Linked DNA regions of Homo sapiens: all the other regions are reported to be linked to region 2. The links are microRNA targets in miRTarBase. Many come from high-throughput screens and were not tested one by one. Region 2 holds a microRNA gene; each other region holds the end of a gene's coding sequence.
The links. The annotated mature microRNA hsa-miR-181c-5p reads AACAUUCAACCUGUCGGUGAGU and lies in region 2 at 1,218-1,239, shown strand. An mRNA with a match to its seed (bases 2 to 7 or 8) in the 3' UTR can be bound and repressed. Matches are read on the target gene's strand: a 7mer-m8 pairs with bases 2 to 8, a 7mer-A1 pairs with bases 2 to 7 and ends in A, and an 8mer does both.

Region 1 (3,000 bases), not on the chromosome of region 2:
AAGGTTCCTTTAGCCACTCAGCACCTGCATAGGCCCACACAATGGGCAGGCTTCAGGGACACACTCCAAGGCTGGTCAGAGGCTCAGAGATGGGACACCACGAGGGATTAGGCACCAGCTAGATAAGAGCCCTGGAGAAATCTAGTCCACAGAGGTTGGAGATTAGCTCCAAACCACTGGAGAGCTGGGGGAAGGGCAAGGGCTAGAACCCACAACTTCTCACCATCTGGTCTAGTGCTCTTCACTGTGGAAGCTGTTTGGTTACACAGATGAGGGGAGTGGGCTGAAAGAAATTCAGCATCCTAACCCTGGGTGACCTTCTCATCTGTGGACTTTCCAAGGAACCTCTGAACACAGTTGGGGAAAGGAAAGACAGGTGGAGAGAAAGACCTCACGCAAAGCCTTTGAGGTGAGGAATTTAGAGAGCTGGGCTGCCTGTGCTCTGCCACCATCTTGCTATTTGTTGACACAATGCATGTCGGGAGAACTGGACACCCTTTGGACCCTCCAGCATTGAGAAGTATGGCTGGAATCCCTGTTATTTATCAGCTGACTGGGATGGCATAAACCCCAACCAGCTCCCTGTTCCCTCAGATTAGGAACAGGACCCAGGAGTTAGGCTGGAGCCCAGGCAGAGCCAATCATGGGGAGAAGCTGACAACTGCCCCTTCCTTCCTCCACCTACGCAGAGGAAGTTACTCACAAAGCAAGTCGATTCAGCCTTGGATTTAAACCTACTCATTGAGGGATTTACGTTGGAACTCCTGGGGAATTATCTAGAATTAGTTGCAAGAGTGGAAAGAGGGCGTCAGGCAGGCTGGCAGGGCAAACTTTCACCTCATTCACTTCTCCATCCCTTGGCCACTTACCCAGCCTTTTCTGAGTCTGCCATATGCCAGGCACTGGAGGGAGGTAGCTGGCCACAAGCTTGGCACTCAGGCTTACTGGAACCAAGGGCCTTATGCTTTAAGGGACTCTTGGGATCATCTAACTCAGCTCACTCTTCACAGGTGAGGAATCTGAGGTTCAAGTAGAGCTCTTTGCCTAGTGCGATGGCAGTGAAGGGCCCTGAGTGGGCAGATACTCTCACCACCTCCCTATGAGGCCTGCACTAAGGAATTCTCTTGCCGGTTAGCTTAGGGAAACCCCTCAGTTGGAAAGCAACATTCTGTATCGTCATGCCTATAGCTGCACCTCCACCACCATCACCCTGTTGTTCATTTACAAATAAATCCCAATGAAGCAGGCTGGGTCCCCACCCAAGGGTATTCCTACCTTATCCCAATTCACCAACAACATGAAGAAGTGCTTTTCTCCTTTTACTATTTTTATTTTACACTATAAAAAACAAGAACAACAACAACAACCAGTAACATACTGCTTTTCTTCACATTCACACGGGTCTTAGAAAATTATTGCCTTTTCCCCTGGAGAAATAACTAACAGACAAAAAGAAAAAAAAAGTAGTACCACGTTGCAAAATCTGCAAATCCCAGAAGTCCACAGCTTGAAGACAACCTCCAGGGGCAGGGAGGAAAACAATTGTCACAAGAGACATAAGCACACAGAAGGACAGGCAGCTGAGGAAACCAGTTTGCACCGCCACTGACCCAGGATACCTAGCAAGTACCCTTCTCCTCCTGGAATCTACTGCTACCACCTCGAAGGTATGACTTTTTTGGTCTATGATCTGAAGAACTCTTTTCCCAAAGGAAGAGTTGCTCTGAGAAGAGGTGGAATGAGACAAGTTCAAGTATGACTAAGAATCATGCCAAAGTCCAAGGTCAGTGAAGAACCCATGGCAAAAAAAATCCAGAAAAGCCAACATCTTGCTACTTCAACCAACTACCTCATTGGACCCAAGAGGGTGTCTACACAACATTTCAGGGTTCAAATCAGGATGCTGATCATGTCCCTACAAACCCTGTAGGGTTACTTTCCCAACTAGACGGTGATCAGCTTATGCCCCGAAGCAACAGAGACAGACATTGAAACTGCCAAAGTTCAAAAAATAAGGTGGAAATTGTGCTTCCTTCAAAATGAATTGGCTTCATAACTGCCTTTTCTCCTGGTCCAGCAACTTCTTTCTCCCACGTTGCTGCAGGTATTTATTGCCTTATGCTTGAAATGAAAAGGCGAACTCTGAGGTGCAAGGACTGGGCAGTCCCAAGAGGGCAGGGGTCTGGAAGTACAGTAGTCAGCACATGCTGTGCTCCCGTAATGGCTTGGCCTTCCTTCAGTCCCGAGAACCTACCCTGAGGTCCGTCTGAAGTTCATTTGCAAGCCTGGTGACCACTCACTATCTCACTGGGGCAGCATGACAGAATGAGGTCTTCAGTATTGCACAGGTATGAAATGTCCATGAGTCTTAAAAACAAAAATCACAGTTGCTCTTGGGGCTGGGCCGATTCCTCCATCCCAGTTTTAGCAGGATGTGGCCGTTGCCACAGGGCTTCTGCTGAGCTCTGAGACTGTTGAGTGGGTAGGCACCGGTGCCAGCACCGAGGCAGGGAATGTGCAGTAGGCACCCTGCATGTCAGGGCTCAGTGTCTGCAAATGGCCTATCAGTGAAGAGCCTGCTGCCTCCCCTTGGCAGGAGGGAGGCTGGGGGTTGGGCGTGGAGGGCAGGATCTCAGATTCGTACTGCAGGAGCTGGCCCATGAAGCCAAAGTTGGGCGAGACCATGCTCCTCCTCTGCTTGATGTAATCGAAGGCCTCCTTCAGGCGGAACTGCTTGGTCTTCATAAGGTAAGCCATGCAGATGGTGGGTGAACGGGAGATCCCAGCCTCACAGTGGACCAGGACCTTGCCTCCCTTTTCCCTGACACAGTCTGGAAGGAAGAAAAGATGGTGGGAGTGAGTTGGGATTAGAATCTAAGGGCAATGGCAAAACACAAGAATCAAACACTGGAGTAACCTAGATATGAAACTGTTGTGCCTGCCTAAGAGCCACGGCCCTACACTACACTTCTGCCAGTCTTTAATCCCCACTGGTGAGGA
Region 2 (3,172 bases):
ACCCAGGCTGGAATACAGTGGCGCGATCACGGCTCACTGCAGCCTCGAGCCTCGAACTCTTGGGGTCCAAGCGATCCTCCCATCTCAGCCTCCTAAGTAGCTAAGACTACAGGCTCACTACACCACACCCAGCTAATTTTTTTGTAGGGACAGGTATCTCGCTATGTTGCTCAGGTTGGTCTCCATCTCCTGGGCTCAAAAGATCCTCCCGCCTCAGCCTCCCAAAATACTGAATTACAGGCCTGAGCCGCAGCACCCGGCCATGCCGGGTGCACCTTCCTAGGCCGTCCGCAGACCCAGGTCAGGGGCGAAGGCGCGCTCGCCCATCCCTGGTCGTCACTGCTTGGCTTGCGGGGGGTGGGAGATAGGGGTGCGTACCTGTAGGCCTGGGGGCACCCGGGGCGGGGGGGTGGTCGCCGAACTCTGTGCGATCACTGGAGGAAGGGACTGGGGGTCATTTGAGGGATGAGGAAATGGAGAGGGGGCGCCGCAGCCGGTTTTGAGGCCCAAGGGGCAGCCCCCACGTGGCTGCGCGGACTCCCTCCGGAAGTGCCCGAGTTCAGATGCTGTGTGACCGCGCACGCGGGGCGAGCGGCGCCCTCTCTGAACCTCCTGCCTCTCCCCTGTCTAGTGGGGCCCCAGTGCACTTGTAAAGTGGAGAGACCTGACGACCCCCCACCCCCAAGCGCTCCACTCACGCTGTTGTGATTCCTAAACCATCGTGCCCGGAACTCAGTGAAGCTCCCAGAACGTATTACATTGTATTAAAATGGCTTGTTTATCTCCACGTTGCATCAATGCCCTCGGGGCCAGGATCCTCCGTTGCCAGACTTCCCGGGAACACTTGGAATGCCTCCTCCACCTCGGACTAGCAGTGGCCTTTGGCCTCAGTCTCCCCAGTTGACAAAGGGGGGTAATCTGCACCTCCAGGATCACTTTGTGAATTACTTAAGGAGCGGGCTTGAGGCCAGCACTCCCCTGCACTGCTACATCTCCATCCCCATAGCAAAGGCTACATTTTATTTACTAGCATTTATATTTGCCTTGTGTTTTTCCCAGATCTAGGTGCAAACAGCACCTGAAAAGCGTTTGTTTATTTCATGAGAGAAAAGGGGTTCCTTACTCTCTCCTCCTCTCCCTCTTCATGCTCTCTGGTTCCCTGCCACCTACCCCACCCCCGACTCCAGGTCCCGGAAAATTTGCCAAGGGTTTGGGGGAACATTCAACCTGTCGGTGAGTTTGGGCAGCTCAGGCAAACCATCGACCGTTGAGTGGACCCTGAGGCCTGGAATTGCCATCCTCCTGCCGGTGACTCTGACCTTCCAGATCTAGGGGGGCCTGGGGAGCCCCCAATCCAGCCTGGGCACGTCCCCTCCCCTAGGCCACAGCCGAGGTCACAATCAACATTCATTGTTGTCGGTGGGTTGTGAGGACTGAGGCCAGACCCACCGGGGGATGAATGTCACTGTGGCTGGGCCAGACACGGCTTAAGGGGAATGGGGACTGGGGACAGGACCCCCCACCGCCACAGTCACTCAGCCTGTTTTTTGCCCTGACCCCAACCACTCCTCTTTGGAGAGGAGAGCTGGTGTCTGGAATCTGGATGGGCTCTGGCTGGATTTGGGACTAAATATTAGAGGGTTGGGGGTAAACAGGCTGGGGCAGGGCAGCTAAAATCCCCTTTTTTTTTTTTTTTTAAGACAGAGTCTCACTCTGTTGCCTAGGCTGGAGTGCAGTGGCCCAATCTCAGCTCACTGCAACCTCTGCCTCCAGGGTTTGAGTGATTCTCTGGCCTCAGCCTCCCAAGTAGCTGGGATTACAGGCATCTGCCACCACAGTGGGCTAATTTTTGTATTTTTAGTAGAGACGAGATTTCACTGTGTTGGCCAGGCTGGTCTCAAACTCCTGACCTCAAGTAATCCTCCCCCCTCGGCCTCCCAAAGTGCTGGGATTACAGGCATGAGCCACTTTGCCTGGCCTAAAACCCCTTTCTGAAATGTGGGTGGTAAGTTCTGCTCCGTGGAGTGCTCCATAGTTTTGTTTTTTAAATTAGAGACAGGATCTCGCTCTTGTCACCCAGGCTGGAGTGCAATGGTGTGACCTTAGCTCACTGCAGCCTCTAATAACTGGAGTCAAGCGTTGATCCTCCCGCCTCAGCCTCCCCAGTAGCCGGAACCACGGGCACGCACCACCACACCTAGCTTATTTCGAAAAAGTGTTTTTGTAGGAACAGGGTCTCAAAACGTTGCCCAGGCTGGTCTCCAACTCCTAGGTTCAAGCAATCCTCCTCGGCCTCTCAAAATGAGCCACAGTGCCTGGCCAATAAAAGTTTCTTAAATGAATGGATGGGTGGATGAGCTGTGTAAGCGGCACAGCGTCTCTCCTCTGTGTCCAAGTCCTGAGCACACCCTCCCCTCCTGGGACTGAGCTGAGATCTCATCTCGGGGAGGACACTGAAGACCTGTAGGTACTAGGGGTCCCCTCCTAACAGCCCAACTTGCTATCCCCCACCTCCCAACTCCAGAGGGTTCTTTCTCACCCCTCTGCAGCCCCCGCCAGGAAAGGGCTCCCTCCCCAGCACCTAGCCTCAGGGGGCCCCAGTAACTAGAAGAAGGAGGCAGATGTGGTGCTTTTTGTTGTTGTTGTTTTGAGACAGAGTCTTACTCTGTTTCCCAGGCTGGAGTGCAGTGGCTTGATCTTGGCTCACCGCAACCTCTGCCTCCTGGGTTCAAGCAATTCTTCTGCCTCAGCCTCCTGAGTAGCTGGGATCACAGGCACCCGCCACCATGCCCAGCTAATTTTGTGTGTGTGTGTGTGTGTGTGTGTATTTTTAGTAGAGACAGGGTTTCACCATGTTAGCCAGGCTGGTCTCGAACTCTTGACCTCAGGTGATCCGCCTGTCTTGGCCTCCCAAACTGTTGGGATGACAGGCATGAGCCACCACTCCCTGGCCTGGTGCATGTCTTTATAAATAACTGGATGGGCAGGTGGCTTCACACCTCAGTTTGCTCATCCATTCAATGGGGGTTCCACTAAGACAACCGATGTGAAAACTCTTGGAGGGAGACCAGAGCTGGGGGCCGGGGGGCATGATCCTTCCCCCCTACCCCCGCAACCAGCCCATGAGCCTGGGACTACCACACTCCTTTCAGAGACAGCTGGAGCATCAGCA
Region 3 (3,000 bases), not on the chromosome of region 2:
GTGTTATACATTATAAGTTGCTGAAGTATTAAAGGTTGTATTTAAAATGTGTATACTCTGACTTTGAGAAATAGTTTCACTCAGTTACCCATGTATCTGGTGGTCTAGTGGCTAGGAAAAGAAATAATTTATTTTTTTGAAAGGATGATTACTCACATAAACACTTGGATTTTGCTTTCTGTACCAACATGAAAACTAATGAATTCACTGTTGCATTTCTCTTGTAGGTGGTAGGCTATGCTTTTGACCAGGTAGATGATCATTTACAGACTCCCTACCATGAAACAGTCTACTCCTTGTTGGATACACTCAGCCCCGCCTACCGAGAAGCATTTGGAAACGCACTGCTTCAAAGACTGGAAGCTTTGAAAAGAGATGGACAGTCATGACTACACTTTTTCCTTTCAGAGGGGCTGGTGCTGGTACAGAATGTTGATATAAAGCTTAAAATTCTTGCATATGGTCATAGAAAATGCATCTTTGGTTTTGTGTTTTTATCACTTGCTTCCAACTTAGGCTTTTGGCTCAGAAGATTATTGAATAATGATTTGTCTTAGTTTCTGTTTCAGTAAGGGAATTCTGAGGCCGTTGCTATGATACCATCATTAAGACATTCACATGTCTTCATATAATATCTCTTCATTTCAAATCCTAATCACTATTTCATACTATTACAGGGCTTTGATGCTGCCAGCACTGTCTTTTACATAGGAAATTCTAGATTTGCACAGTAATAGAGGAATTAGAAGTACCTAACTATACACTTTGATTCAGCCTGCTAAATCAGGGGTTCAATACTAGCTTGGACAAACTTTGTAGTAATTAATTGCTACCAGCCTTATTGGAAACAAATTATCAACTAGTTTCCCCTGCACAAATTTTGAAATTCACTGCTTCACTTAATCTATTTATATTACTAATAATGGATTAATAAAGATGAATTAATTATATATTACTTAACTAGTATTAAATGAAAAACAGGGACTGAAATAGTTCTGTATTCCGTGTTTGCAACAGCCAGCCAACTAAGCAGAGGATAAACCGTTAGCAAATGAATGTAATAATTACTCATTTCCAAGATATCTAAGCACATAAGCAAATACAGGAACAGACTTCATTCTTTTTCTTAACAAAAAAGCATCTTCAGTGTGTGATTTAAAAGAAAGAAGATTCTGGTTTCCTAGAAAACAATATTTTGGCCTGTGTTGATTCTTATTCTGAATGTGTGTTTACATAATGTACAGTATATATTCAGAAAGTATTTTTGCTTCAACGTTTACTTTCTATGATGTAGTGCTTTGGTATTCCTACAGCACCCCACCTTCCCCAACAGATGTACAGTGTTCTGTCTCCATTCGAAATCTACAATGTAATATGAGTGCATTGTATGGGTTTGAAACCAAAGGATGAATGAAGCATTCAGAGACTTAATATTTGAAAAAGGAATAGTCAGTATTTTATATTTTATTACAGGTACTGATATTTATAAATTTAATAAACTGTACCATGCTGCTGCATGTTTTCAAGTACATGTTGAACAGTAAGGATTGGGGAGTTGTTTTTTAATGGTCACCTAAAGCAGCTGCTATAGAAATGTTGAACTAAAATTTTGCATCTGGTCATACCTTCATGCATTTATCATTTGCAGATATTTTTCCATCATTATTAAAAAACAGGAACTTTTAGGCTCTGAAGATCATGTGGACCAGAGCAAATTAAAGTTCAGTTTGTGTCACAATTCATTGCCAGACTTCATTGGAATGCTTTGTTTGATGATGTATGTTCATTCTCAGCTTTATTTTCAGATGCTTAACTGGGCAACGAAGTCTAACTTCAGGTTGAACTTTCTCATGTTTAATCTCAGGCTAAATGTAAATGATATTTGTAAAGTTTGAATAAAATTCTGTTTACTCATTTTGAGTTAGTATGAAAAAAAGTGATTGTATGTTTAAGAATTGAAATTGTTCATTTTGTGATAAATGATTAATTCCAAGAGCTTGTTTCCATTTTTTAATTCTGCATTGTTACATTTGGATTTGAAATGACTGAAGTGAGCTTTCTCTTGTTACTACTATGAAAGAGCAATGAGGAACAAGAGGAGAGGACATTAATAAAACTACACAGATATACATGAGAATCTAGATATTAAAACCTCCATTTTACCTGGTCTGTTTAAAGAACTTAACCAGCAGATAGGCCAGGTGTCGTGGCTCACACTTGCAATTCCAGTGGTTTGGGAGGCCCAGGCAGGAGGATCACTTGAGGCCAGGAGTGCAAGACAGCCTGCGCAACATAGATCCCATTTCTACAAAAAATTATAAAAGCATGGCCTGGTGACACATGCCTGCAGTCCTAGCTATTAGGAAAGCTGAAGCATGAAGATTGCTTGAGCCCAGGAATTGGAGACTGCAGTGAGCTACAATCGTGCTGCTGCGCTCCAGCCTGGATGACAGAACAAGACCCTGTCTCTTAAAAAAAAAAAAAAAAAATGAAAATTATAAAACTTAACCAGATAAATTAAGCCTTGATTTCACTTCTAAAGGAAAAAGAAAAAAAAAACTTTTATATAAATAACTTTTACAAATCAGTAGGAAGAAAAAATGCAAACAGTGGGCAAATAATATGGTCAACTCAGAAAAAAAAATAGATGTCAGTAACTACTTGAAAGAGGCCCAACCCAACCATTAACTCAAGAAAGAGAAATTTTAAGTTATTGGGTCATTTCACCTGCTACTTTTGTGATTCTTCTTATTTAAACTTAATACCAGTAAGGATTTAATGAGGAAGCACTCTTACATTCTATTGGAGGGTATATTGTTGAAATCTTTCTGGAAACATTGGTAATAAATCCTTTACAAGTTTATAACTTCTGAATTGGTAATATACTAGCAACCTAGCATAGGGAAATGATTCAGCAAAAAAACTAGTATATAAGGATGTTCATTTCCCCTAATGAAAAATTGGGAAGGCTCTAAAGAGTGGTAAAGTGATGCTACATCT

Region 1: miRTarBase lists DUSP5 as a target of hsa-miR-181c-5p. Seed matches in the 3' UTR shown: 7mer-m8 at 1,390-1,396.
Region 3: miRTarBase lists GSKIP as a target of hsa-miR-181c-5p. Seed matches in the 3' UTR shown: 8mer at 1,053-1,060 and 7mer-m8 at 1,219-1,225.

The regions. Positions count from the first base shown.
Region 1 is chr10:110,509,851-110,512,850 of GRCh38, reverse strand. It overlaps DUSP5 (dual specificity phosphatase 5), which reads right to left. Exons shown (of 4, transcript NM_004419.4): 4 at 1,318-2,831. The coding sequence ends at 2,425. Among named protein-coding and RNA genes, the nearest start is that of DUSP5, 13 kb to the right of the region's middle. RefSeq lists enhancers at 1-19, 100-149, 580-659.
Region 2 is chr19:13,873,508-13,876,679 of GRCh38, forward strand. MIR181C (microRNA 181c) reads left to right here and starts at 1,192; the gene lies at 1,192-1,301. MIR181D (microRNA 181d) reads left to right here and starts at 1,368; the gene lies at 1,368-1,504. It also overlaps a transcript of NANOS3 not described here.
Region 3 is chr14:96,385,296-96,388,295 of GRCh38, forward strand. It overlaps GSKIP (GSK3B interacting protein), which reads left to right. Exons shown (of 4, transcript NM_016472.5): 4 at 228-1,993. The coding sequence ends at 389. Among named protein-coding and RNA genes, the nearest start is that of AK7, 5.3 kb to the right of the region's middle.